Linked DNA regions of Homo sapiens: regions 1, 2 and 3 are each reported to be linked to region 4. The links are microRNA targets in miRTarBase. Many come from high-throughput screens and were not tested one by one. Region 4 holds a microRNA gene; each other region holds the end of a gene's coding sequence.

What was found. Region 4 holds the annotated microRNA hsa-miR-569 (AGUUAAUGAAUCCUGGAAAGU, at 4,357-4,377, shown strand). A microRNA usually pairs through its seed, bases 2 to 8, with sites in the 3' UTR of a target mRNA and lowers its output. Matches are read on the target gene's strand: a 7mer-m8 pairs with bases 2 to 8, a 7mer-A1 pairs with bases 2 to 7 and ends in A, and an 8mer does both.
Region 1: miRTarBase lists GPATCH8 as a target of hsa-miR-569. Seed matches in the 3' UTR shown: 7mer-A1 at 5,306-5,312 and 7mer-A1 at 5,685-5,691.
Region 2: the mRNA of NAXD is a reported target of hsa-miR-569. Seed matches in the 3' UTR shown: 7mer-A1 at 3,058-3,064.
Region 3: miRTarBase lists NCALD as a target of hsa-miR-569. Seed matches in the 3' UTR shown: 7mer-A1 at 4,966-4,972.

What each region holds. Positions count from the first base shown.
Region 1 is chr17:44,394,012-44,401,203 of GRCh38, reverse strand. It overlaps GPATCH8 (G-patch domain containing 8), which reads left to right. Exons shown (of 8, transcript NM_001002909.4): 8 at 1-5,923. The coding sequence ends at 3,636. Among named protein-coding and RNA genes, the nearest start is that of ITGA2B, 8.0 kb to the right of the region's middle. RefSeq lists a silencer at 549-1,012 and an enhancer at 3,224-3,724.
Region 2 is chr13:110,635,571-110,643,008 of GRCh38, reverse strand. NAXD (NAD(P)HX dehydratase) reads right to left here. Exons shown (of 10, transcript NM_001242882.2): 8 at 7,421-7,438; 9 at 5,760-5,880; 10 at 3,013-4,631. The coding sequence ends at 4,481. It overlaps CARS2 (cysteinyl-tRNA synthetase 2, mitochondrial), which reads left to right. Exons shown (of 15, transcript NM_024537.4): 14 at 488-694; 15 at 1,401-1,592. The coding sequence ends at 1,472. Among named protein-coding and RNA genes, the nearest start is that of NAXD-AS1, 23 kb to the right of the region's middle. RefSeq lists enhancers at 5,469-6,297, 7,128-7,438.
Region 3 is chr8:101,683,759-101,691,196 of GRCh38, forward strand. NCALD (neurocalcin delta) reads right to left here. Exons shown (of 4, transcript NM_032041.3): 4 at 2,784-5,648. The coding sequence ends at 5,551. Among named protein-coding and RNA genes, the nearest start is that of NCALD, 100 kb to the right of the region's middle.
Region 4 is chr3:171,103,618-171,111,055 of GRCh38, reverse strand. MIR569 (microRNA 569) reads left to right here and starts at 4,297; the gene lies at 4,297-4,392. TNIK (TRAF2 and NCK interacting kinase) reads left to right here. Exons shown (of 33, transcript NM_015028.4): 19 at 179-342; 20 at 2,894-2,991; 21 at 3,850-3,873. LOC105374216 (a long non-coding RNA gene) reads right to left here. Exons shown (of 5, transcript XR_007096163.1): 2 at 3,681-3,862; 3 at 3,140-3,218.

The DNA.
Region 1 (7,192 bases), not on the chromosome of region 4:
GGGACCCCATTGCAAAAATTGGGAGTGTCATTTTCTTTTGCCAAAAAGGCTCCTGTCAAACTCGAATCAATAGCATCAGTTTTCAAGGACCATGCGGAGGAAGGGACCTCTGAAGATGGAACAAAACCCGATGAGAAGAGTTCTGACCAAGGACTGCAGAAGGTAGGAGACTCTGATGGGAGCAGTAATCTTGATGGTAAAAAAGAGGATGAAGACCCTCAGGATGGAGGGTCCCTTGCCTCAACATTATCCAAATTAAAAAGGATGAAACGAGAAGAAGGAGCTGGGGCTACAGAGCCTGAGTATTACCACTACATCCCCCCAGCACACTGCAAAGTAAAACCTAATTTTCCCTTTCTACTTTTTATGAGAGCCAGTGAACAAATGGATGGTGATAATACTACACACCCAAAGAATGCCCCAGAGAGTAAAAAAGGCAGTTCTCCCAAGCCTAAAAGCTGCATCAAGGCGGCAGCAAGCCAAGGAGCAGAAAAGACAGTTAGTGAAGTCTCTGAGCAGCCGAAGGAAACCAGCATGACCGAGCCCTCAGAACCAGGAAGCAAAGCTGAGGCAAAGAAGGCCTTAGGAGGGGATGTAAGTGATCAGAGTTTAGAAAGTCATAGTCAGAAGGTTTCAGAGACCCAAATGTGTGAGTCCAACTCTTCTAAAGAAACCTCTCTGGCCACCCCAGCAGGGAAAGAAAGCCAAGAAGGACCCAAACATCCTACTGGTCCCTTCTTCCCAGTTTTGAGCAAAGATGAAAGCACTGCCCTCCAGTGGCCATCAGAACTATTAATTTTCACCAAGGCAGAACCCTCCATTTCATACAGTTGTAACCCTTTATATTTTGACTTTAAACTTTCAAGGAACAAAGATGCCAGAACTAAAGGAACAGAAAAACCAAAGGATATAGGAAGCTCCTCAAAGGACCATCTCCAAGGCCTAGATCCTGGTGAGCCAAATAAAAGCAAGGAAGTGGGCGGAGAGAAAATAGTACGTTCCTCAGGAGGCAGAATGGACGCACCTGCTTCAGGGTCTGCCTGTAGCGGCCTGAACAAGCAGGAGCCTGGGGGTAGCCATGGGTCTGAGACAGAAGACACAGGGAGAAGCCTTCCCAGCAAGAAAGAACGATCTGGGAAGTCCCACCGGCACAAAAAGAAAAAGAAGCACAAAAAATCCAGCAAACACAAACGTAAACACAAGGCTGACACAGAAGAGAAAAGCTCTAAGGCAGAGTCAGGGGAGAAATCTAAGAAGCGCAAGAAACGAAAACGAAAGAAGAATAAGTCATCAGCCCCAGCAGATTCTGAACGAGGACCCAAACCAGAACCCCCTGGGAGTGGCAGTCCCGCACCACCAAGAAGAAGGCGGAGAGCTCAAGATGACTCCCAGCGGAGATCCCTCCCAGCTGAAGAGGGGAGCAGTGGCAAAAAGGATGAAGGTGGGGGTGGTAGCAGCTCCCAAGACCATGGTGGGAGGAAACACAAAGGTGAACTTCCACCTTCATCCTGCCAGCGAAGAGCAGGCACCAAACGGAGCAGCCGGTCTAGCCATCGGAGCCAACCCAGTAGTGGAGATGAGGATAGTGATGATGCTTCCTCACACCGGCTGCACCAGAAGTCTCCATCCCAGTACAGTGAGGAAGAAGAAGAGGAAGATTCAGGCAGTGAGCATTCCCGCAGCCGCTCAAGGTCTGGCCGGCGCCATTCCTCGCATCGTTCCTCCCGGCGTTCTTACTCAAGTAGCTCAGATGCCTCTTCAGACCAGAGCTGCTATAGTAGACAGCGCAGTTACTCTGATGACAGCTACAGTGACTACAGTGACAGATCACGAAGGCACTCCAAGCGCTCCCATGACTCAGATGACTCAGACTATGCCAGCTCCAAACACCGATCAAAACGGCACAAATATTCATCTTCTGATGATGACTATAGCCTCAGTTGCAGCCAGTCCCGAAGCCGATCTCGGAGTCATACCAGAGAGCGCTCAAGATCCCGGGGCCGCAGCCGCAGCAGCAGTTGTAGTCGTAGTCGAAGCAAGCGGAGAAGCCGTAGCACCACAGCCCACAGCTGGCAACGGAGCCGGAGCTATAGCCGGGACCGCAGCCGCAGCACCAGGAGCCCTTCCCAGAGATCAGGCTCCAGGAAGAGATCATGGGGTCACGAGAGCCCTGAGGAGAGGCATTCTGGGCGTCGGGACTTCATTCGTTCTAAGATCTACCGCTCCCAGTCCCCCCACTATTTCCGATCAGGCCGGGGAGAAGGTCCTGGGAAGAAAGATGATGGCAGAGGAGATGACAGTAAAGCAACAGGTCCACCTTCCCAGAACAGCAACATTGGCACAGGAAGAGGGTCAGAAGGTGACTGCAGTCCTGAAGACAAGAACTCTGTCACTGCCAAACTGCTACTGGAGAAGATCCAGTCAAGGAAAGTGGAGAGGAAACCTAGTGTGAGTGAGGAGGTGCAGGCCACCCCTAATAAAGCTGGGCCCAAGCTCAAGGACCCCCCACAAGGTTACTTTGGGCCCAAGCTCCCCCCATCTCTTGGCAATAAGCCTGTCCTTCCACTGATAGGGAAGCTCCCAGCTACCCGAAAGCCCAATAAGAAGTGTGAAGAGTCTGGCTTGGAAAGGGGGGAAGAGCAAGAACAGTCAGAGACAGAAGAGGGGCCCCCAGGGAGTAGTGATGCCCTATTTGGGCATCAGTTCCCTTCAGAGGAAACAACTGGCCCCTTATTAGACCCACCCCCAGAAGAGTCAAAGTCTGGAGAAGCTACTGCTGATCACCCTGTGGCTCCACTAGGCACCCCAGCACATTCTGACTGCTACCCTGGGGACCCAACCATCTCCCATAACTACCTCCCCGACCCCAGTGATGGGGACACCCTGGAGTCCCTGGATAGCAGCAGTCAGCCAGGCCCTGTGGAGTCCAGCTTGCTGCCTATAGCACCAGACCTTGAGCATTTCCCCAGTTATGCACCTCCCAGTGGGGATCCTAGTATTGAGTCAACAGATGGGGCTGAGGATGCTTCACTGGCCCCCCTGGAAAGCCAGCCCATCACCTTCACCCCTGAGGAGATGGAGAAGTACAGCAAGCTCCAGCAGGCTGCTCAGCAACACATCCAGCAGCAGCTTCTGGCCAAGCAAGTAAAGGCCTTTCCAGCCTCAGCTGCCCTGGCCCCAGCCACACCAGCCCTGCAACCCATCCACATTCAGCAGCCAGCTACAGCCTCTGCCACCTCCATCACAACTGTTCAGCATGCCATCCTACAACATCATGCTGCCGCAGCTGCTGCCGCCATCGGCATTCACCCTCACCCCCATCCCCAACCACTTGCCCAGGTGCATCATATTCCCCAGCCCCATCTGACCCCCATTTCTTTGTCCCACCTCACTCACTCAATCATCCCTGGCCACCCTGCCACCTTTCTCGCTAGCCATCCCATCCACATCATTCCCGCCTCAGCCATCCATCCTGGGCCCTTCACCTTTCACCCTGTCCCACATGCTGCCCTCTACCCCACCCTACTTGCTCCACGGCCTGCTGCAGCAGCTGCCACTGCACTTCACCTTCACCCACTACTTCACCCCATCTTCTCAGGTCAGGACCTGCAACATCCCCCCAGCCATGGCACGTGAGTTGGGGGATGGGATCCTAGGTAGGGCCAGGGGAGGAGACCCATAAATGTTCCCTTGGGGGTGTTGAGCCATTAATACCAGCAAGTAGAAGCTGGGATGGGCAGTGTCTGACAGCCAAAGAATTGAGTTTTGGCTTGCAGGGGTGGGTTTAGATTTGAAGTTTGCTTTCAGTTTACTATCAGGGATTTCTTTTTCCTGTCCTCCTCTCAATTTGTCCCTCCCTCTTCTGTGTTTCTAAGCTAGGGAACACCAGTAAGTGCTACCCACCCCTCTGCAGCAACATCTCCAAACTGTCAAGTTTAGATAATCCCCTCCTCCCTCTGCTTTTTTCCTCTGCTCTTCCCTTCTGTAAATTTTAAAACATTTTCCTCCCCTCTGGCCAGTGGGTTGTCACCAGAGCACTTGCTGTGGGCCCATCTGGTCTTGCCTTCTCAGCGCCACAGGGAAGGCCAAGCTGTTCTAGTGGTGGAAGTGCCACCATTTTGGGGTAGTATCTTTGACCATCTTTGGTGACGTTACGTTATCCCAGGTGAGGTGGAAAGCGTCTCACCTGGAACCTGATATAACTCAGGCTGCAATTCCATCCAGTTCCCACATCAACGGAGCCACACATTTGGCACTGTTATCTTGGTATCCCTCATCCCAGAAGAGGCATCTCCATATCCCAGAAAAGAAGATCCTATCATGAATAAAAGCTGTATGGCCCAGAGAGGAGCTCATGTGTCTAAAGTGAAGGGTATATTTTCTTCTGTTGTGTTGATGTTTCCTTCTTAATTTATAGGATTTTTTTAATGTAAAAAATTGCACTGAACTCTATAAACGTAAATGCTGCTTTTTGTAGCTCATATAAAAAAGGTTCCATATTTGTAGTATACTGCAATAATATTTTTTACATCCAGCTCTTTAAGTGATCCTCGTTCTGGTGGCTTTGTGTAAATATGTTTGCCCTAGTTGAATTAAGAAACTCTAAAGGTTATAAAATGAAAACAAAAAATAAAATATTTGTTTTCTGCTAGATGCAAAACTGACTAAGCATGTATATTTTACCAAACTTATGTATTTTTTGAAGTTATGAACTATAAAATGTTAAAACATTTTTTGCTGGGACAAAATGTTAAGTAATTTGCAGTATGTAGTGCCCCCAGTATTGGGATTTTTGAGCTAATGGGCAGCAGTCAGCTGGGGGCTTCTGAGGGATGCTCATCTTTAACAGTCTCCCTCATGTACTTTTGCTGTTTTACACAGAGAAACAGGTAGACCCCACAGAGGAGAAGGAGGGGATTCAACAGCTTTATTGTCTGGAAGCAGTGAGATTTGGTGATTGTCTGGGGGGATTCCTGGGTTTCCCTGGGTACCTTGTTCCAGGCAGTCAGTCCATTTGCCTTCCTAGTACTTAGCCCCCTCTGACAATTTTTTTTTTAATGTGCCTTTTGGGTTGGTAGAAACGGAAGTAGAAGTAGGCTGGAGGATGAGTTGGGACAGTCTTCCTTTTGTTGGGAGGTGAGCACATTTACAGATATTTTGCTTCATAGTTTCCATGCCCTCTGCCCAGCTCAGTTTAGACAGTAAACGTTCCTTGTTTCTTTTCTCCCATGACACTGACAAGAGGAATTACCACCTCAGCCTCTTTTGCCCCTCTTCTTGCCTTTCACCCAGGCTCTCAGCCCTAATTAACACACTGACCCAAAGGTGCTTGTGTTGCAGGTCCCATCTCCTTTGATGAGGTTAACAATTCCCACTTTGGCATTTTCCTAACTATTCGTGTGGCTAGAATTGGTTGGTTGGTCACTTGACAAGAAAAACCATACTTACCTGGGCCAAGGCTCTGTTCCTGCCTTCGCAAATTCTCAAAAGAGTAAAGTTTATGAAAAGAAAGTGGCAGGCAAACACAACTCTTGACTGCCCTCCCACCCTCCTACCTGTTCAGTACTCATCTGATTCAGAAGCATCACTTCTTGGATAACTAGCACTGGAAAAATGAAATCATCTGTGTAAGTGAAGGGACTCATTTTTCTTTGCTTTCAGCCCATGTAAATAAATAATACAGTATTAACATTTTCGTGCTGCTTCCCATTAGCTTGTAGATTGAGCCATACTCTGGCTGCCTCTTTGCCTTCCTAGGGGCATTTTCTTTAACTTCCAGAATAGTGATTTTAAAAGTAAAAATAAAAATAAACCTTACTTACAAGCATAACAGATTGTATTTAACTTTATCACATATGATAGAGATATATATGCTGTAAAATGAGGGAAAGGAACTTTCTAATAAACCAATGATTTGTGGAAACTTAGCAGAGTCTGTCGTAATTGTTGCCCCATCCACTCAAAGTTAGGTAGGGTTGGAGGTGTGGGTTATAAATAACATCTTGTTTGACATGACCAAGGAATAGATTCCTGTGAACCAGTTAGAGATGTTTGCAGTTGTGCTTCTGAAAGCTCAGGCTACGCAAAGAGAGAGGAAAGATGATGGTGTGGGAGGTGGTAATAGTAGTTAATTTCTCTCAGTTGTAGGTAGATGTATTGGGATGTACACCTCCTTTCCACTTCCTCTTTCCCACAAGAGGAAAGATTTCCTTCCATTTTAGATATATAATCTGTGTGTAGTAGAATATATGGTGTATATATAGGTGCTTACTAAATGGGTGTGGAATTTCTGGCTTTGAATTTTAGGATTTTGGACTACTTTAAGGGCACTGAGATGACAAGAATCATCTGCCGGACTTTTGTCCTCCAGGTGGAGTTCTGTATGCCAGTCTTCAGTTACTCTCCTCAGCCCTTTAATACCACTACAGTGTTTGAGCACCTCTACTTGGTATAAGGAAATATGGCCTAATTGTTACAGAGAAGATATAACCCCTACTCTTCCATATCAAAAAATCACAAAAGAGGCAGGGAAAATTTAGCATGGAAAGCTACCATAGAGTTGTAGTGATAAATTAGCTTTCCCTCTCAACCTCAGCCTTTCAAGAAGGAAAGGCTTTCTTTCCTACTGTCTTTTGATACATTTCTTTCCTACTCTGTTTGATACATCTGTGTTCTCCCTTTGATTAAAGAGGAGCTGTTCAACTTGAACCTGGGGTTGAGTACTCAGATCTGCCTATATTCCTAAAATAGCAAAGATCCTTACCCAGAAAGAAATGACATTAGACCTACAAAAATTAGCCGGGCGTAGTGGCACACGCCTGTAATCCCAGTTACTCGAGAGGCTGAGGCAGGAGAATCGCTTGAACCGGGAGGTTGCCGTGAGCCAAGATCACACCACTGCACTCTAGCCTGGGCAACAGCGTGAGACCCTGTCTGTCTCACACACACACACACACACACACGTTAGAAAATGAAAAGTGAGGCCAGGTGTGGTGGCTCATGTCTAATCCCAGCACTTTGGAAGGCCAAGGCAGGTGGATCACTTGAGGTCAGGAGTTTGAGATCAGCCTGGCCAACATGGTGAAACCCCATCTCTACTAAAAATTTAAAAAAAAAAAAAAAATTGGCCAGGCATGGTGGTGCATGCCTGTAATTGCAGCTACTCAAGAGGCTGAGGTAGGAGAATCGCTTG
Region 2 (7,438 bases), not on the chromosome of region 4:
GATCTGTTCTCAGTGGGAGGACAGCGCGAGGCCTTCTGCGCAAATCCCGTCCTCAGCACCTGAGGCTGTGAATCTCAGACCATTTGCCGAAACACACGTGTGCAAGCGCTCAGTCGCTGCCCCCCAGCCTCATCCTCAGGTTGCTCCTGATACCTCGGCCACAATTGCGTGAGGTCTGGAAGCCAGGGAGCGTTTGTGTTCAGGGCGGGGCGGCATGCAGCCCCCAGCCCTTTCTTCCAACTCCCGAGTGAGGATCACTCAGCCTTGCTTGGACGACAGATGCTCAGAGTTGAGTGGAGCCTTGCCCAGAGCCCAGCGCTCGCGGGCTGTACCCATCCCTGCCAGACCCAGAAAGAGGCCCAGCTGCAGGGAATCAGGGAAGCCCAGGGCTGGGTGGGTGTCGGCCCAGAGCCCAACCACGGGGTGGGGAGGGGGCATCCACAATCCACAGTCTCCGGGGGACGTAACCGCGCCCTGCTGGCTTCAGTACGTTTCAGGAGACGGCAGCGAGGCTACCTTGCATGGTGTGGTGGACGAGCTGGTGCGGTTCCGGCAGAAGGTCCGGCAGTTTGCGCTGGCCATGCCCGAGGCCACGGGGGACGCCCGGCGGCAGCAGCTCCTAGAAAGGCAGCCCCTGCTGGAAGCATGCGACACCCTGCGCCGGGGCCTGACTGCCCACGGCATCAACATCAAGGTGAGTGCCGCACCAAGGTCAGGGACATCACCCCAGGAGCCGGGTAGGTCAACAGGACGTGGGGCCATCAGAGGCCCAGACATCCCCCGTGACCATGCTTTTTTTTTGAGACGGAGTTTCACTCTTGTCACCCAGGCTGGAGTGCAATGGCGTGATCTCGGCTCACCACAACCTCTGCCTCTGCCTCCCAGGTTCAAGCGATTCTCCTGCCTCAGCCTCCTGAGTAGCTAGGATTACAGGCATGCACTCCCATGCTCGGCTGATTTTTTATTTTTAGTAGAGACAGGTTTTCTCCACGTGGGTCAGGCTGGTCTCAAACTCCCGACCTCAGGTGATCCTCCCACCTCAGCCTCCCAAAGTGCCAGGATTACAGGCGTGAGCCACTGCGCCCTGCCCATGCTTCTGAGTAGAGAAACCCACCCCCATAAAAAATGAGGTGGGAGGGCCGTGAGGGAGGGGCCAAGTTGGCTGCAGGGGACGCTGAGCACGGGGACGTGGGTCCTGCTCAGCCCCCGCCACCTCCTGCAGGTGCCTTGAAGCTCCTGGCCTTCTGCTGGAGGTAGTGGGGCCCTTTCTAAGCGCCTGGCAAGCTTTTTAGGACAGGCCGGTGAGGGAACAGGCACCCTGAACCTGATTACGCCTGTCAGCCCCCTGTGCCACATGACGTGGTGTCTGCTCAGAGTTGGACCTCACTCTTCTTCTCCAGGACAGAAGCAGTACAACATCCACGTGGGAACTGCTGGATCAAAGGACAAAAGACCAAAAATCAGCGGGCTGAGGATGGAGCACAGCCATGAACCTGCTCACGACAAGACGCACCCATGCTTCTCAGGGTCAAGGCTTTATGTTAAAGCTTCCTGTCGGGGCTGCTAGGTCAGCATTAAAGTAAGGCAACCAACAGTGTCCCACTGGCGTCTGTTTGTTAGTAACTGAGCCTAAACACTCACTGCGTTCTGTGGCTACAGACTCACCGTCGATTGAGTGAAGTAGTGTCAGACATTCAGTAGCATCCAGCAGCACACGTGCCTGTGCGTGAGACCTGCTGGCCCTGTGCCCAGGGAACAGACAACACAGCCAACAGAAGAGCAGGGACCCCGGGAGGCGGCAGAATGCAGCCTGTTTCCTCCTGAGGGAGGGGCTGGGGATGGGTGAGGTGGGTGGGCCACGCAGCATAGTCTGAAGCAGAGGTGGGACGCCAGCAATGCTAACCCCGGGACACCTCCCCCAGCAAGAACACAATCTTACGTTTTCTCTCTGGTTACAAAAGTAACGTATTCAGCATAGGAAAAATGCAGCTGAGAACCCGTCTGCAGTCCCGCTGCAGTTAACATCCTGGCAGCTGCAGGCCATCTTGGTGGTCATGGTCTGTGCAGAGCAGTGATGGGGTCGAGCTGGGCCTGGGAAAGGTTGGTTCCGGAGGAGTCAGGGCAGCCAGGCTGAAAGCCAGCTGGCGAGCTGTGACAGACAGGATTCCTGAGCGGGAGGTGGCGGCCAGCACACGGCAGGCTGCCTGGGCTACAGGACCGGTGGCCTCCTGAAGCACCCACCTTGCTCCTGATCTCACCCTTCTGTGGTAAGCCCAGCGCCACAGCTGTCAGTGACTCAGCAGGGTGACCCCTCTCCACTCTTCCTGCTCGCAGACCCTGGGCCAGGCCTCTCCCTGTCACACTGGCATCTCTGAATCCCAAGGGCACAGGCAGCAGCGGGACCCGTGACTGGGGATACGGGCTTGCTCATCATTTAACCGTGACCCTGAGGTACAGGTCTCCTGTCTACAGTTCAGAAGTCACTCACCTAGAAAATCACCCTAGTAAAGCTACCCACATAGAAAAAGTCCCCAGAGGGCTCCTTACAATGAGGCATCTCGACAGGGCTGCTCAGTACTGGGGCATTACGGGCCGCCCACCCCCCCACACTTTCCCGTTGCTCTCCTGGTCCAGGGAAGCTCCTGGGAGCGTGTCCGGCTGGAGCGAGTGCGTGAAATACGTGGGTTTGAGAAAGAACATGGAAGCAATGAGCTGCTTGTAAAAAAACCCATTCTCTCCTTTAAGCAAAGGGATGTTTTACTTAGAACAAAAACCAGACGAATAGTTCCTGTGACTGCTGAATTCTATTTCCTAAGGAAAGAAGGGGCTGCCTTGGGCTTATCCTTCAAGGTGCTTTATTGCAGCCACCACGGGAGAGGCGCTGGCGAGGAGGCCAATCTCACACAGACAGGCTTAGATATTCTTATCTCCCTGGCATCTCACACAATGTCCTCACCTAAGAAAGTTGAAAGGTGAGCTTTAGCTGTTTAAGGAAAAAAATACAATACTCAATTTAAATTAACCAGATCTGTCTTTTAATAGTTACCAGAATTTAGATGTTAATTCCCCAGAGGAAAAATGTCCATGGCACAGTTTTTCTGGAAAAGTTCACATGTAGACAGTGAAGCTTCTGAAGTTAGGCGTCAAATTAGTAGTGACAATCTTTTTTTTAATCTTGAAAGTCCCTAGTTTTAAAGAAAGTAGAATCCATCTGGGGCATGTCTGCATCACAGGGTATCACTCAAGAGTCATCATCAGGCCAAAAAGACTCTGAAGGGAACCAGGAGGGTTTGGCCCTTGCTGTGGAAAGATGCTACTGAAAGTATAAGAGAACACCCTAATGCACGCGTCAGGCACGAAACCGTACCATGCCCCGCTAAGACATGGGACCAGAGAACACGTCAACGTCAGGCCGCTCCAGGAAAACCATCCACAAAGACAACAGAAGCTAACCCGAGGTCGACACTGCCATGAAGAGTGTTGGCTGAAACCGCAGTTACCAGTGTCTTTACTGGACGCGAACATCCCTAAGGACACGGCTGTGCTGCTTCCTAAGCATACGTGACCACGATACTGTCTTTCCCCGGGTCTCCTTAGCGCCATCACTGCACCAGGCCCAGCATGCCTCAAGTCCTCCAGAGCCTTCTCCTGAGACAGCACTAGGGGCCACGTCAGACCCCAGGCTGCAGCCCTTCACCGTGCCCGTCCCCGGTCCGGTCTGCCCTGCTGGGGCCGGTGGGTATCATGGGGACCCCTGTGTAGACACGGACACCGGAGAGCGTGGGACAGGAGGCGTCTCAGAGCTCCCCACCCACACACTCAAGGGTCAGCGTCACTCATGTTTCCTTCTGTTCCCATGGTGCCTCCAAAAGGGTTTCCAAACAAAGTCATCATTGATTACCCTGGAGTATGTCAATAAGCCAAACACCAGCAGCCAGATACCACCAAGCTAGTCACCACTTTAAAAGAAGATGAGCTGGAGAACGAAGCAGCCCTCTGATGGACCCAGTCAGTGCAGTCGGGACTCAGGGAGACACCCGGGGACCCCTGCCCAGCTCCCTGCCGGAGGAAAGACTAGGGAAGGGAAGCAGAGGAGGAACGAAGGGCGCCGGCAGAGAGAGTAACAAGTAGAAACTTCGCCGATCTGGGAGCAGGCCGAGAAACTCTGTTGAGCTGCTAAAGAATTCTTCATTCTCATGTGATTTTCTTCATTTCTGTCTTCCCAGTTACTACCAAGGAGCTAAGGAAAGTTCAGGAATACTTTGTTTAGTGTCGCCATAACATCTCCAACCATGCATTAAGTTTAACCAAAAGCTGCAATATTCCAGATTCTTAAATTCTCAATGGCAACCAATTTATGCTCAAGTTGAAAATCTGGCAAGCACCGTACGCCTTCAGCACACGCGTGGGTCCGGATTTTCCCATCACACACACGCTCTCCCCCGTCCAAGGTGCCTGTTTACTTCTGGTCTGCGCGGGCTCAGGTTTCAAAGAGCTTGCTGAAGGCGGCCCCCACCTCGGCGATCATGTCGGAGGTGGTGGTGGAGCGACCGTGCTTCTGGAAGGCTTGGTGGTTGCACTGCCTGGTGAGAGAGCAGGCGCCAAACGCGGCCACCAGGAGAGGGCTGGACCTGCGGAGAGGGGGACAGCAGGAGGTGTGGGGAAGTGGGCGTCGTGGTCCGGGGGCCGCAGCTACCCTGGGCTCTGGTTTTGACTCCTGTTTCAATCTCAGGACCCCAAATTGTCAATTTCAAGTCTGATATGCCCCTGAGGAGAAAGCAGGTTTATCACAGCGAAAACCACCATTAACCCTCCACTACTCCCTGGCAGGAGGCACACAGGAAACGTCTATGTACTCGGAGACAGGTCCAGGGCTAGGGCACACAGTGGGCCAGGTGTTCCCGGGGAAAGCCAGGCGGCACAAGCTGCTTAGCCCTGTTTGACTGTGCTCTCAGTGCCCAGGTGCAGAGGGCATCTGAGGTCTGAGAATGGGGATTCCTGCTACCAGGGCTCCATCTCCTGGGGGAGGGGTGGAGGCAACTCGAGTGAACACAGCAGAATGAACAGTAAGACTCCTGCCCACACCCCTACCTCCTCGGCTCTCAAATTCATGTGGACACACCTAGTTTGGGGGATGGTCCCAGACTCTGCCATCCCGGCAATGAGGACACATGAGGCCACTGGATGACAGCCCTGCCCACCCTCCAGAAGCCCGGGTCTGCCACACCTAGCACCTGCAGCCACCACCTTGATGGGCTCACAGAAGAGAAATGGAGATGCTTAGAGGTATGGGAACTGCTTGCATTCATAAAGTTCTCTGACTACAGAACTGGGCCAAGGGCCCTGGTCCTAGAATTCTGCTGTCTCTTAAAGAAAATTCACATCTTTAAGAACAAGTGTCTAAGTAAGCCTTGACCCTGTCTGTTTTCTATCTTAGTATTCTGTGTTACACAGAATAAACCACTCAACTTCCCAGAACAGCGTGCTGCTGGGCCTTGGTTGCACCTCGGAACTCTCTGGAGAGCTCTGAAGACCACCCCTGCCCCAGGCCCCATCCACAGTGAATGATGGACAGGCCCAGGCCCAAGTGTGGGGTGGAAGCTTCTGCCAAGAGGGTTCGTCTGTGCCGAGATCTCTCCAGTGAAGCCTAGAGTTCATTGTCAGTGTTTCCAGGGCTACTTATTCAACGCATGAGCTACTGAAACAGCTTAGAAAAATCAGACGGTTTCAAAGTAGAATAAATGAAGACGTGGCCTTACCCATTTGTTTTCTGTGGTCCAGCAAGGAGCGCCCAGTGTACCAGGACGCCCAGGGAGCCCGACAGGAGGTCCCCTTGCCCTCCACACCTGCGGCTGCTGCCTTCCTGGCTGCACACAAGCACTGCACAGGGCAGAAGTGAGAGCAGGTGTCAGCATGGCCATGTGTGTGAATGTGACAGTAGCCACGGGTGTGGAAGGCCGCACGGCAGGCAGAGCCACACCCTCCAGGAGCAGCCTGAGGCTCCACTCACATCCTGCCTGCTACGGCTCTTCCCTGTTTGTTCCAAGGGTTGGAGGCAGCCTCTGTTTTACAGAAGAGGAAACCAAGACACGCAGTGGTGAGGCTGCCCCAGACCCCGCTGTGTAGCACAGCAGGTTGGTGGAGACACCTGCAGCTCGGAACCGCCTCAGACGAGCCCAAGCAGGCAGCTCTGAGCAGGGCGGCGCCAGCCTCCAGCTCCTCCCACCAGCTCCCAGGGACGGAGCCCTCACCTGCAGCCCACACTCCAGAGTTCACCTTAAACCACAGCTCAACCATACAGGGCAACACCGAGCGAGGCCTCCACCGGCCTCATAACGTCACGTATGCCTGTGTATGGGAATTCTCTATTTCTTTGAAAAATGTTTTGAAAACCAGGTGTTACATTCTCTGAACCTGTTAGACCCAAGAGAGCCTTCCAGTGATTAAAAAACCCTCATCTCAAAGGTGTCAGAGTCCCTCTGAGAACATCTGCTCTGTGTTCCTTGTGCACAGCTGTGTGTGGATGAGTGTGCGAGGGCGTGTGCGAGGCTGTGAGCATGACCATGCATGTGTATAAGTGCGAGTGTGCAAGGGCGTGCGAGGCTGTGAGCACAACTGTGCATGTGTATGAATTGCATGCGTGTGCACATATGTGCATGTGAATGTGAGTGTACAAGTGTGGATGTGCACACACCCGCCCACAGACGCCTCAGTGTTCTACCCTGATTTTGGTACCTAGTCCAGCCCCACAGCTCAGCAGGTGAGCACATTCGCTGCCCATCATCTGTCCAGGCCTGAATGGAGGGGCTTCCATTTTCAGCGCTAACAAGGGCACGGCTCCCCAGATGCCTCGCTGGCGCTGGGCCCGGCCTCTGCCCTGCTCTCACTTGGCTCTTGCTGAAGCCTCCCCAGGCTCCGTGGGAGTGGCCAGTTGAGACTCGCCACACTCAGTGCCTGAGATTCCACTACCAGCATCAGCTTCGGGGCTTTCTGCACTTTCCAGTCATTTTGATAAAAGAGAATGAAATGCAATAAAATACCCAAATAACTGCATGGATGGTGGATGCCACAGGTGAGATGAAGGTGGCAGCTGGAGACGCGGGACCCTGCACTGTGCCCTGCTGTTGCAGGCACCCTCCCGCCAGACTGCTTCTCATAACTGAGGCAAGGGAATTCAACCAACGGGTAAGGCCCACGGCTCGAAAGCCTGCCCTCACCACTGTCACCTCCCCTGGCAAAACAGTGAAAAGTCAAAACATGGACTCTGAAGAAAGTGTGGTTGACGAGCTCATCAGGAATCCCTGTGTGAATGTGTGTGAACACGGGTGTGCACGGGAGAGGTCTTCCAGGGCTCATGCTCGGTGTGGCCATGCTGACTGACCTGGCACTGGCCCATGCACAGAGGGCAGCCGCCACTCACCCTGCTGGCCGTTGGAGA
Region 3 (7,438 bases), not on the chromosome of region 4:
GATGAGTTCATGTCCTTTGTAGGGACATGGATGAAATTGGAAATCATCATTCTCAGTAAACTATCGCAAGAACAAAAAACCAAACACCGCATATTCTCACTCATAGGTGGGAATTGAACAATGAGATCACATGGACACAGGAAGGGGAATATCACACTCTGGGGACTGTGGTGGGGTGGGGGGAGTGGGGAGGGATAGCATTAGGAGATATACCTAATGCTAGATGACGAGTTAGTGGGTGCAGCGCACCAGCATGGCACATGTATACATATGTAACTAACCTGCACAATGTGCACATGTACCCTAAAACTTAAAGTATAAAAAAAAAAAAAAAAGACCTTGTCTTATACCTTAGGATCATCACTGCAAAAATAATAAAATCAACTAACATTCAAAAAAAAAAAAGTCAACACATATATATATATGTGTGAGAGATATATATCATATCTCTCATATCACATATTACATATGTGAGAGATATATGATATATATATCATATATGTAAGAGATATGTATCATATTTCTCATATATATATATGATATACATGGTAAAGAGTGCTCTGCAATTGTTGGATATAATGTTCTATAAGCCAAATTAGGTCAGTTTGGTTAATGTCATTCTAAACTTCTGTATCCTTTTCTTTTGTATGCTTTTTCTATTAGTTATTGAAATTGGTCATAGCCTATGATTGTAGATTTGTATATGACTCCTTTAGTTCTTTCAACTTTTGCTTTATACAATTAAATTTTGTGCTAATTAGGTATTGAAAACTTTGTGATTTTATAGCTTGCTATGGACTTAACCCTTTTATGACTTTGAAATGTACATCTTTATATTTTGCACTTCTACTTAAGATCTACTTTTTTCACTATTAATTTAACCATATAATTTTTCTTTTTGTTAATATATGGTAGACTTATTTTTGTCTTTATACTTTTTAACTATGTATTCATACATATGCTTACAATGTTACTTCTGTAAACAGAATAAAACTGCATTTTTTTCAAAAAAAAAAAAAGACATTTATGCAGCCAAAAAACACATGAAAAAATGCTCATCATCACTGGCCATCAGAGAAATGCAAATCAAAACCACAATGAGATACCATCTCACACCAGTTAGAATGGCAATCATTAAGAAGTCAGGAAACAACAGGTGCTGGAGAGGATGTGGAGAAATAGGAACACTTTTACACTGTTGGTGGGACTGTAAACTAGTTCAACCATTGTGGAAGTCAGTGTGGCGATTCCTCAGGGATCTAGAACTAGAAATACCATTTGACCCAGCCATCCCATTACTGGGTATATACCCAATGGACTATAAATCATGCTGCTATAAGGACACATGCACACGTATGTTTATTGTGGCATTATTCACAATAGCAAAGACTTGGAACCAACCCAAATGTCCAACAATGATAGACTGGATTAAGAAAATGTGGCACATATACACCATTGAATACTATGCAGCCATAAAAAATGATGAGTTCATGTCCTTTGTAGGGACATGGATGAAACTGGAAACCATCATTCTCAGCAAACTATCGCAAGAACAAAAAACCAAACACTGCATATTCTCACTCATAGGTGGGAATTGAACAATGAGACCACATGGACACAGGAAGGGGAATATCACACTCTGGGGACTGTGGTGGGGTGGGGGGAGGGGGAAGGGATAGCATTGGGAGATATACCTAATGCTAGATGACGAGTTAGTGGGTGCAGCGCACCAGCATGGCACATGTATACATATGTAACTAACCTGCACAATGTACACATGTACCCTAAAACTTAAAGTATAATAATAAATAAATAAAAAAAAAAGAGAGAACCACCAAAGCAAAAAAAAAAAAAAAAAAAAAGGGAAGGAGGTCCATTCTTTCAAAGGCAGTTCTTATGCTCTCCTTTCTACCTTGACTGAGAGAACACTTGGACTCTTCCTCAGCTGGTGGGTACCGAACTAGGATGTGTGGGGACTCAGTTGGGTTGGGGCAGCAGAACAATGTCCTGAAAATAGGAGCCTCAGGTTTGGAAATTTGCTGAAAATTCCCAGGTTGCTGGTAGGCAGGCTCCTGATGAGATTGGAGACGCCCAGCCACCTTCTCAGGATCAGACTTGTGTTATTCATGCTCAGGACTCATGGTGTCAGGGCCATCACTGGTCCATAGTGGCCAACTGTGTGCAGTAGGAAGACTCCCTCGAGGGCAACTCTGCCCCCACACATGGTCTAGTTGGCCCGTGAAGTTCTCCCACAGCTAACACTCAAGTTAGCAAGATGGCAGCTCCTTTTCTCTACAGTAACGGCCTCCTGTGCTGGAGGCAAGGCCAATGACAGCAACAGCCAACACCATGATTGGAACTGGCTTTCAGAGTGTAGGCTCTGCCTCATGTCATCTTTTTCACTGAACCTTCTCAGGCTGAGAGGGGTGAAGAGGTTATTTATTTCCTGAAGCTTACCCAGATCCCATTGAAGGGGAGGTTGCCTCAGTTTCTCCCTTTATTGTACCTAACATTTGGACTCTAGTTTGAGGAAGGAGAGGATATGGGAAGGAAGTGTAGACCATGGAGGGAGGGATGTAAGGAAGCCCATATGAAGACCAAGGATGCCTTTGGACAGAACTTTGGGGTCAGCAGCCTCTCTCATCCCCCCTCACAAACCTTGGTTCCTTGTGTCACTCTAGGCAGGAAAAATACCCAGGAGGAGGCTAGTATCAGAAGCTAGAGCCTCAGTAAGGCACAGATTCAGCTGGGGCAGCAGTTTAGGCATGAAAATCTCATGAAAATCATGTTAAACCAAAAACATGCTTTAATGCCAGGCAAGAGCTACACAGTCAACTGATTTACGGGCCACTCCATAGGCTATGATTTATAAATTATATATTATTAAATCCACCGTGGGCATACAGATGGGATGGGACAGCACCCCCAGCTCCCTCCCACTCTGAATGATGTATGAACAGTTGAGCACTCTGTAGAATCCTTCAGGTCGTAAGCCACTTTATTCCAGTCCCTTGAACATCACAGGCTGGTTTTATTTGGGACAGAACAGGTTTTATTTCCAAAGGTCCCTGAACACAGCAATGACAATGAACAGCCCAGCAGAGGAGTGACATAAACCTTGAGGCATGCAGTCTTCTGGGTGCTGTGGAGTCCCTTGGCCAAACTTGAGTGCACTGGATTCGACATACAAAGACCTTCCTGGGAAGGAGAAGGAGAAAAACAACCTCCGAGAAAATACAGACAGGGTCAGTGGCAGGCCAGGACAGGGACTATTTCTATACATTCTGGAAGTGTCGGCATTCATCAGCCTGCATGTGGCTCACTTTTCTTTCTGGAATAGCCGGAGACCTCTACTCCTCACTCCAGCTCTAGGTTCCAAGGAACAGAGTGGGTCTGGCTCAGCGAGATGTCATGACTAAGGGCAGAGCCCAGGCAGGTTTCTCAAAACATTAACTGATTCCACCTACCAAAGGAGAATCAAAGGAAGGAACTAGGACTTCGATTCAGAGCAGGGAAAAGTGGGATGCAGCTCCTGAGCACTGCCAATAGGGCATGCTAGGTCTCCTCACCCAGTCTGCCTTCTGTGTCTTAGGTTAATTCGCTATTTTCCAAACACAGATTTTAACACTTGGCCATGGAGGAATTTGGCAAGTTTTGGTACAGAACCACTGTGAGGAACTGACCCCTGGAGGAAGACTAGGATTATTTTTACAGAGTCTAGGTCTCAAAATTTCACCCTATGGATTTGGTTCTTTTTGGTCTACCATACAAATTTGGATTTCTGCTGCCAATTACAGCAGACTCAAGTCATATATAAAAACCTGGAGGTTAGCATGTCTAGTCACATTTTTCTCCTGGTCATGATGTCTCTCTTTCTGTGGTTCCTCTTCTTTGGCAAGTGGCTTGGCAGCAAATATACCCACTAGGGACCTCTCTGCCTTCTCTTAGTGGCAAGTTCCCCATCAACAACCTTGAGAATTTGGGCCTCCCTTTGCTAACTACTTGCAAGAGTATGACTCGCCTGTAACCAGCAAATTTTTACTCTTAGCTTTCAATTCAAATTAGTGTGTCTGAGGTCACCAGACCAAACAGCAACTCAGACTTGTGCTGTCACTTCTGGAAATAGAAGTCTGCATTCAAAGAGCACGGCAATGGAAAATACTTTTGGATTCTCCATAGGGGGGCCTTGGAAACCACAGACACACTTGCCCATGTCTTTATGATGAATTTGATGACTGCCCAACCTCTGATTCTTTAACAGGGGCAGGGAAACTGAATATTCCAGACCTGGCTCCCTAACCATGCACATAGATTAAACCACTGGGAAGTTCCAAGAATGTATGTGATGTTTTTTCGAGTCTGCAGAGTATTGATCTGCTCAGAAAAGCACCATGCCGCCAGTCTAATGCTGTCAATGGGCTGCTGGGCCTGAGAGGGAAACCACCCTACTGGTCCCCTGTCATACATGTTAACATTCCTGTGCTCCAATTGTCCTGTCCCACTACCACCTGCTCTGCATCTGCCCTCTAGGCATGGCCACTCTGGAAATGCATTCAAAATTAAAGTTGGGCCCTAGTCAGGGTTACTTTGTATTTTTATGGAATATATAAAATATACTTGTCGATTGGTACATTTGTGCAAAGACAGATATGACTTCCAAACAAGACAGACATTCATTATAGTTGTCTTACTTCACAATAAGCTACTAAAAACAGTCTTCTGGAATAAGATTGTATTAGTGCTCACTAAACATGCATTTCATTTAAACAAGGCAAAACACTTAATTTGGTCTGCATTACCCAATATGTTATATACAGCCGTCTTTTTATTTTATCACAATAGGCAACAAGATGGGTCTGGTTTTGGAATATGTTACCATTTGTGTTTAATTTCCAAAGACACGCATATTAGCTCAACTAGTGTAAACCTGTGAAAAAATAGCTGAGCCATCTTTTTCCTCTCCTCTGTTAATTTATCTTGAAATGTTCACAGCTTAGAAACTACAGCCTGCTGGGGAAGAGAGGGGAGTGGGCCCCCATGGGGAAATGTCCCAGCTCGCTGGAATAGCCTCACCCCAGAGGGTAACTTGTTCTTGGGGAATCCAGCATCCGGTGCCATCCATCACCCCTACGGCACGTGTGACAACAGATTCAGGTGGGGAGTTTTGTCTTTCAAACAAAAGCCCCTTGAAGCTTGCAATAGAATCACAGGACTGGATGGGTTTCCCTTCTTTTGCCCCAACCCCCGAGTCTTACGTTTTAGAACAGAGACATTAGAATAAAAAAAAATAATAGTAACGATTAAAAATCATCAAACAATGAACACCACGAAGTCTGTCCATGCTCTCCACAAGCACACTGGGGCTCTGGGCATTCCCACGAAGCATCCACGACAAAAGAAGCTGAAGGCGTCACGGAGGAAGGCGCATCAGACCGCACAGGGGACGGCATCACCATTGATATTGTTTGGCAAAAAAAAAAAAAAATTGTTAAAAAGAAGAATCAAAAGGGAACACAAGCAGCTCTACAATTCGATTGGTGGGCGCAGGGCTCAGAACTGGCCGGCACTGCTCGGGTCGCACTGCAGGAGGCGCACAATGGACGGGTCGCTTTTGGCTCCTCGGATGAACTCTTCCAGGGAGAGTTTTCCTAGGAAGCAAGAGGACAGGTGAGTGGTGGCTGGTGGCAGCTGCATGAGCTTACACCCTTCCCACTACTGCGTGCTGGGCAGTGTCGATTCACCTGCCTGCAGCCTCACTGCCACTGTGACACACAGCACTCACCTGTCCCGGGGAAGAGCCCAGTGGAATCTCCAGGAACACTGCTGCCTCATTCACCATGGCATTGCCAGCACTTAGGACAGTACATGTGGCAATCAAACGCCGCTGCCTGAGAGCCCACTGTGTGCCCGGCCCTGGGCCCGGGACTGGGGAGAGGGTGGTGGATGATGCTGACTTGGTCCCTGACCTCCTGGCTCCAGGCGCCCTGGAGAGGCTCACTCAGCATTTGTAAAGCAAGTGGCCCTCCTGCATTTATGAGAATGAGCTGGGCCCTGGCAGCACCCGGTTGGTTCCCATAATGTTCCCTGGAGCCTTCTGAGCCACTTCGTGTTCTTCAGGCCACTCTGTGTTCTTAGGTTTGCTGCAAGAGCCCATCCTATCTTGGGGAAGAAGCCGTGGACGTAAGTGTTTGTTCATACACCACGGGAAGACAGCTGTGCCTCCATCTGAGGTCAGGGAAGAGCAGGGTATGTTCAAGGCAGAGGGTAACCCATGGGTTTCTGCCTCTCAGTTAGGGTGCTCTCCTGCTACCCTGATGTGCTGGAGGAGGGAGGCTCAGCAGCCTGGGCTCCCACTCCGACCCCGGTGACCTTTCCTTTCTGCTTACTCTGGAGCACGTACAGAATTCTCTTCCAGGAAGGCCTGTCACTTGTGGAGAGGAGGGGAGGGGGTGGGGTAGGAGTTGGGGGACTGCAAGGCTTTTCCCATTCCTGGTGCTTCCAGAAGGACCCTTCCTCTTTGTCTACCCCGCCCCTGGGAGTGAAGTGACATGCTCGATTGGTAAATTTGGGAGGAATTGCTGGGCATCTCCGCCCAGCTTTGCCCTCCCTTTTTCTCTTGAAAGGAGCTGCCCCAGAGAGGATTTATTTCCATCTGCTCCTCCAAGGGCAGCACCCGGCCTGCCTGGCTCTGCACGCCTGTGGGTTTTTCAGCACGTCCTTGGACTCTCACGCTAAGCCATAGCCTCCAGTATCTATCTTTTGACCTCTGTCCTCTTTTATTTCTCAACTTACTCCAAACCTGACAGGAGGGGGCCTCCCCCAACAGAAACACCAACAAACATATCTTCTCCTCAGCCACAACTCCCTCCCCGCCAGAACCTAGTTCTTGTTTAATGAAACCCACTTTATCTCCATGAAGGAAAAAGATAGGGATGCATTTATTAATTTATTTTTAATTTGTAGAGCTGATCCCCTCCAAGCTCTGTGTGCTGGCCATTTTTTATGAGCCCAGCCCTGCCCACATAGTAGTTACAATGGTAATGACTTCCTCCAGCTTGGCAAGGCATGAGGGAAGGGAGACAGGCGTGATCTCTGAACACTTTGCAGTCTCTCAGGGGTCGGCTCTGGGAGGCACCAGCTGGAGGTAGCAGGGGCAGACCTGGAGCTCGGCATGACGTCTGGCTTTCTTCACTTAACTGTCTGCATGATTCAGAGTTGGCTCCTAGGAGAACTTGCCTGAGGGCCCAGATTTTTCTTTTCAAATCGGAGGCCAGAAGTTAGATTCCAAGAGCAACAGGCAAGCTAAATCTAAGGGTAGGAGACTCTAGGTGAGGACTGCTCTGCTCTCGGCAGGGAGGGGTGCAGGTGTCCTCAATCCTGGGGTCCAGCAGCCAAGCACTGAGCTGAAGCACCCAGTCTCCTGGTTGAGCTAAGATTC
Region 4 (7,438 bases):
CTTTTAAGAAATGTCTATTCAGGTCCTTTCCCCATTTTTAATTGGGTTATTCGTTTTCTTGCTATTGAGCTGTTTTGAGTTCCTTACATATTTTGGGTATTAAACCTTATCAGATATGTGATCTGCAAAACTGGCAAGGTCTGGAGAGTGTAACCAGTGTGCTCTGTCACTCACACAGCAACCCTGATCTCCGGAGAACTGAGCCCATCTTGGAGAGCCCCTTGCAGAGGACCAGCAGTGGCAGTTCCTCCAGCTCCAGCACCCCTAGCTCCCAGCCCAGCTCCCAAGGAGGCTCCCAGCCTGGATCACAAGCAGGATCCAGTGAACGCACCAGAGTTCGAGGTAAAACTTTCTCTTACCTTTACCTGGCAATACTGCCTGGGAGGAAAGCTGTGGACAGGGAAAAAGGTTAGTTACTTCCTGACTCTAGTCCAGGCATGGCCACCACTGTGTGATCCTGAAGAGCCTGTCAACTGCTCTCAACCCCAGTCTCCTCGGGAGTGGGCCACTGTCCCTAATTGTGTGTGTGCCATCAGTATGGACAAAATCCTTTCTAATCTCAGATACCAGTGTTTTCCAGGGAGATCACCAAATATCAGTCTTATTTGAAAATACAGTCACTTACCAGTCACCTGAATTTCTGTTTCTGTTTGATTGCCGGTTTTTAGAGTTTCATGTACCCACAAATGTCCTGAACGCATTGCACCAATTGTCCTGTTTAGTATTCTGAACATAGTTCATATACACAGTTCAGAATACCATGTATTTCTCAAAATGAAATTCAGTAAAGACTAATGTAGAATACACTTGAAGGAAGGAATAAAATCTTTGACTTAAAAAGCATATTTAGGCCGAGTGTGGTGGCTCACGCCTGTAATCCCAGCACTTAGGGAGGCCAAGGCAGGCAGATCACCTAAGGTCGGGAGTTCCAAGATCAGCCTGACTAACATGGAGAAACCCCATCGCTACTAAAAATACAAAAAATTAGCCTGGCGTGGTGGTGCATGCCTGTAATCCCAGCTACTCGGGAGGCTGAGGCAGGAGAATCGCTTGAACCCAGGAGGCAGAGGTTGTGGTGAGCCAAGATCACGCCATTGTACTCCAGCCTTGGCAACAAGAATGAAACTCCATCAAAAAAAAAAAAAATTGTTGACTCCTCTGGTTATTCCTATTAAGTAAAAATTAGCCTCTCTAAATATTTAATTCAAATTATTCATCATTGTTTAGTTTCCAGTAATGGGGAGGCCTATGAAAAACATTATTATTTCCAGGTGCTGATACATAATAATACATTGTTTCTAGCTAGTTAAAATTCACTCCTTCTGAATCAACTTCTTCAGAAGATAATTTTGCTTCTAAGTGATGAAGACCAGTACTTTAATTGCAATTTGACAAATATTAACATACTTATAAGTTTCTCTGTCTGATGAAAGCCTCATGAGAACCTTCAGTTCTTTTTTCTTTCTTAGACTCTTTATTACATACCACCTCCTAATACCCTTAGTTTATCTCCTAACACCCTTTCAGGGTTTTAAATAAATCACTCTATTTCCATTTTAAAAAGCTTGATATCTAACATGTGATTGATGTTCACGTCTCTGGATTGGGATATGGACTAGCCAACAGCTGCCTCTATATGCATTCTTCTGATTAGTGGCACATCTCAGAAGTATCTACTGTATGTCTTTGTTGCCTTGATCGAAATATAAATTTCCTTAATTTAGAAAACTACCAGATGTAGTGGCTTACGCCTGTAGTCCTAGGTACCCGGAAGGCCGAGGTAGAAGAATTGCTTAAGCTCAGGAGTTCAAGGCTGCAGTGAGCTATGATGGCCCCACTGCGCTCCAGCCTAGGTGACAGAGCCCCATCTCTAAAACACCTAAAGAAAGAAAACAGCCATTCTGTTATCTTTTTTCTATTTATAGGCAACTTCATATTCTTAGAGCAAATATTTAAATAAACCAAACTTAAACGCATACCATTTTAATTCTCTGGTCTGGTTCAGGCTTACTTTTTATTTCCTTCAGCCCCTCGTTCTTCCGGATTAAAAGGGCTGTTGTATCCCTGGTATGTCCCTGTCCAAGAAAGACTACTTTTTAAGAAATAAAAACCACCTCTCCTACCCTAAATTGCATCTTCTCTATCTGTAAGCTCATAGACTGCAAAGATGCTATTCACTCTGCAGCTGTCAGGGTCCCCTTGACCTTGCTCTGTACCTCCAGCCTAGGGCCCTTCTCCTATAACAACCCCCTTCTTGCCCTCACCTCATTCTTTTATTTTTAAAGGGCTGAGACCACTCCCATCTCCAATTAAAAACCGTTCCACCAAATAAAATAAATTTTTTTTCCCTCACAAAATTTCAACAAAATAACCTATCCTGATTGGACAAATGATAAAAGAAGAAAACAAGCATAGAACCTTAGAGGCTCATTTAGCATAGTGACTGAGAATAGGACTTTCAGAAATCAGAACTCCAGCTCTGTCTATAATTTCAGTGTGACCTCCGGACAGTTGTGTCATCTTTGTAAATCTGTGTTCTGTAAAATAGGAGAATAGTGCCATATCATTGGGTTGGAGTGAGGATTAAATGAGATAATTGACATGGAAAGCATTTAGCACTATGCCTGACACATAAGAAGTGCTCTAGTGGTGATAGTACTTGCTACATTTCTTTTTTTTTTAATTGTTACTAGTGATTTCCAGGTCACAAGCCTAAATGTGTTTGCCTGAACATTATATTTTTCATGGATGTTTCTTGAGGATTTGCCCAGGTGAATGACGTGTCCACTGAGTAATCTCAATGTGATGACACATCACAGATAATTCATTCAGAACTTGAGCCAGCACTTTTTGATGGCCATCTCTTTCTTGGTCCTCTGTTTTTTTCCTCTAGCCAACAGTAAGTCAGAAGGATCACCTGTGCTCCCCCATGAGCCTGCGAAGGTGAAACCAGAAGAATCCAGGGACATTACCCGGCCCAGTCGACCAGCTGTGAGTGCTTTTCTCTCCAAGAGTTTTGAACTCTTAATTTACCAGAGAACCCACAGGATTAAGTAGTTGGGGATACACTCATGATGCAAACAAAAATTGTTGAGATTAGTAAGAACGGATGCTAGAAACATCCCGAAGAAAGTCATACCTGATTAGGAAAGAACCGAAGAGATCTTGGATTGACTCCTCTGCCTTTGGCTATTTGCTGATCATTAGCAGTCCTTTAACTATAAAACAGGAAGAGAAACAACTCCTATCATTCCATAATTTCTACTCAGCAACTTTGGCAAAAAGATGTTGAAAGTAGCAGTTAAAGAGACTTGGGTACTTTCTATGAACTTCTCTAATCTCTTCTACTCTTTCCCCATATTATTTTCCACATGAATTAATATTACAGTTTTTCTGCTATTTTTCATGCCTCCAGGACTATATTTTCTGGACCAAACTTTTTAAGCAGGGTCCAACAGGCGTCGTAACAACTTAGCATCCAGCTTCACTGCTGTAACATGATAGACCCCCAGGTAGCCTTAAAGAGGAGTATGGAGGCTAAAATTTGAAAGTTGAAAATTAATTTGGGATGAATTACTATCCATTTTTTCTATTTAAATCTCTTGAGAATCTTTTCTGTAAAATGAACGTGAAGCTTTTTGGTTTACTCTTTTTTAACATCTTAAAGTAACGACGTATACCGAGAGTAATAATGAAGGGATTTGCATCATTCTGGATTGACATTCTCTTCGCCCTTTTGTATTTATCAGTTGCGTACTAACAATTACAATTTTGTGTCTAATCTGCTGCCTTTCTGCTGGCTTTTCCTCCTTCTGTGGATTCTTCTGGATTGGGTTCCTCTCATTTCAGAGCTACAAAAAAGCTATAGATGAGGTTAGTATTACCTTTTCTTGGTCATGCTTTCACAAAATGTAAATATTAAACTTATTTCCTAATGTTGACATTCAGAAAGGTGGCCAATGGGAGCAATCAGCTGGGAGGAGATTTGTAGCAATCTGCTGGGAGGAGTGCCCCTTCAAATGGAAGCCAACTTTAAGACCCTCAAACCTACCCATATAGCTTCAGAGACCTTCCTTCTAAGCTAAAATGTCACTTTTCCAATGTTCCAGTCTGGCTAATGACAAGTATTCATGCTTTATTAATGGCAGTTTCTCCTTCCAGTATCTTCCAATAGCAAACCTGTACTTGCCAGCCTTGCTAGGGAATGGCTCTCAGCAGTTTTACTAACAAGAAAAGAGACATCATTCTAGGACACTCCAAATTTAGAGTGTGTGATTTGTGAACAAGGAGTTAGTAGGTATTGTTAGATTAATTTTGTGGGACATTAACAACAGCATCAGAAGCAACATCAGCTTTAGTTAATGAATCCTGGAAAGTTAAGTGACTTTATTTCCTTGTCTGTGGAGACGTTTTCCATTAGAAAAATATATGGCTTTGTCAGTTGTAGGTAGCTTGCTAAGAAGGATGACTGCCTTACTGCTATTTGTCAGACCTGCATGAATACAGCAGAGTAGAATTTGTTTTTTTAAGATCCAGGCCTTGCAAAGAGTCCTAAATGCATGGAATCTAAAGACTACCATCATGGCTTTAAAGCTGTAGCTCTGCTGAGCACTACTTTTGTGAAATTTAATGGAAAAAGCACTGGCTTTGAGGTCAGCAAGCTGCATTCAAATCTTGGCTCCCCCAGTAAATAACTGGCTGAGACTAGTCTCATAACCTCACTGGGCCAGAGTTTCCTCATCCATAAAATGAGAATAAAAACACCTCCCCATCCCACTTACAAGATTGTTTAGGATCATTTAAGGTAATGTGTGTGAAAGCATTTTATGTGTAACATTGCTGCAGAAAGCCAAGGGTTTGATTAAGGTTTGGGCCAGAGGCATGGAGCTATTTTGGCAGGTAGGAGAAGCATGTTTCCATGTATCTGGTCTTCACCGAAGAGCCTCACTTTTTCAGACTTATGGCCACCTCACCACCCAGAGTGACGAGACAGTTATGATCATAGTTGAAGGATTGTTGCTTATAAAAGAATGAGACTCCGCATGTTTGCGGTGTGTGGATGGCATTTATAGAAAGGGAAGAGGAGAGTGTGTTTTTAATTGCTCTGTGCCGTGGCCTTGCTTGCCCCTCTCTCTCATAATAGTGAGAAGGGCAGGGATTATCACAACTTTTGTCAGTTTTCTCCCAGAACAGGTAAAGAAAGACAGTGAAGTTCTGGTGCTACAGTTGCCAATAAAATGGCTGTGCATGTGCAGAACTCAAGAGGAATTACATGAGTTCAGAAATTGGCTTGGAGGGGCCGTCATTAAGGAAAAGGCTCTCACAGATTTCATCTGATTAACCCAGAATATTTTAGGCTTTGAAAAATTGCTCTACTTTTTTTTGGTGTACTGCACCACACTGGACAGAGATGAGAGGGGGCAATGGAGGTATACGTAATTACAAATAATTGAGGGGGTGTGAGCTGCATACTAAAATCTCTGGAGCCATGTATGGTTGGAAAAGCCCTCCAGGTGACTATCCTGATCTCTTGAGTATCACTGATCCAAACCACTAAAATAAAGCGGTTCTACCTAACCCAGTGGCTCTCAACCACGGCTGATTCCTCCACTCCTCTTCCCTTAGGAGACATTTGGCAAAATCTGGAGACAGTTTTGGTTGTCACCACTTCAGAGTAGCAGGCAGTGGTACTGGCATCTTGTGGATAGAGCAGAGGGGTGCTGCTGCCAAACATCCCGTGGTGCACAGAGAACTCCCTACAATAAAGAATTATCTGGCCCAAAATGTCAACAGGGCCATAATTGAGAAACTTTGAACTACACCTTTCTCCCTTCTCCATTCATAGGTTTTGGTAGGGCTTCCCTCTCAACGACTGTTTTTGCAATTTAGATAACTGGGATTGAAATGAAAAATCTGAAAATCACTTTTGAAATATTGTCGCTTGTTATTGCTAATGATTTAACTTTTTATAAAAATTAATTTGGGGGAGTGTACATTAATGTGACATTGCTTTCTAATGGAATATGAGATTTTGCAGCATAGTCTATTTAATATAGTCTTTGAATATAGTCTTTGAAAATAAATGGGTTTTCTCTGTTGGCACAATTAAATATGTGACACAAAGATTATACACGTAAGAAAACACTGTTTTTACCGCTGTTTTTTATTAGTATGTGGGCATCAAAAATTTCAAAGCACATCAATTTAGATTGGATGGAAGGTGAACAATAACTAGGGGTTCAACCCCCTTTTCCCTCAGATGAGGATATTGAAACTAAGTGGCTTGCCCAATGTCATATCTTTAGAGTTCCTAAAAAGAAAATAGTTTAATACAAAGAGAAAAAAAAGCTAAAAATTTTTAAACAATAGTTCAAAAATTGAACTAATATTTATTTGAATAAACTATATTGTTTCTAAAAAGGGACCTAAAAGAGCGCCTTTTTAGTCAAGATGTGCATAATAGTTAACCTTTGTTGAATGAAAAATTATATCTAGTTGATTCTAAAAACTGTTAAGCCTCGTAGCTATCTTCACATTTACTCTGTAGTCAAAAAATCTTACCATCTTGCCATATTTCTTTTTTAGCTATATATTCTCAAATATTTTCATGCTAAATAGCACTTATTTTGTTTTTTAAATACTTTTTAGCTCCAGGCTTGTGACAGCCAAGTAATAAATTACCAAGAAGGCTCATTATATGGAGAAAATTTGTATTGTCAAAGAATAAAATATATGAAAATAGAATTGAACCCAATGGTGTTAATATTAGATTGTGTTTATTTCCTATAACTTTGCTATTATAAATTTTTCAATACTGGACGGATAAGAAACAAAACTTCAGCTAAACACATAGGTTCTTAGCAATGGAAGATTAATTTTCTTTGACTACAGGTATTACTTTGGAATTATTCATTATTTTTACCTTTTCATAGGGATTCTGGTATATGTCTCGCCTCCAAACTGTTAATTGAAAATTTCCTTTAAGTTTAATTGTTATTTCTAATGTTTCAGGGCAGAGAGCTTTTTAGTAACACAGAAGCAAAAAATTCTAATTAAAAGCAAAATTATTAAGCAGTTCAGAACTTTAAAGTGTTTCTAAATACAATGTTTAGAAAAATGTATGTCATTTTAACAAGTGAAAGTTTTTTTAAATCAGTAGCCTGTGGACTAAATATTTCTAAAATAATTTTGATTTTTTAGAATTTCTTTTGTCTCGTTTTGAAATGTCAGAGAAAAGGAAAATAAACCTCTGGGGAAAATGTATCATTAATTAAACCATAGCCAAGAGTATTATATTTTACTCAGAATTATTAACAATAGAGATAAACTCTTTTAAACCATATTCTCTCTTTAAATTATATAAAATGTAATTCTTAATAACAAGTAACATTTTAAATGCTAGCTGTATTCTTTGATGAGACTTAACACAGTCCTAATA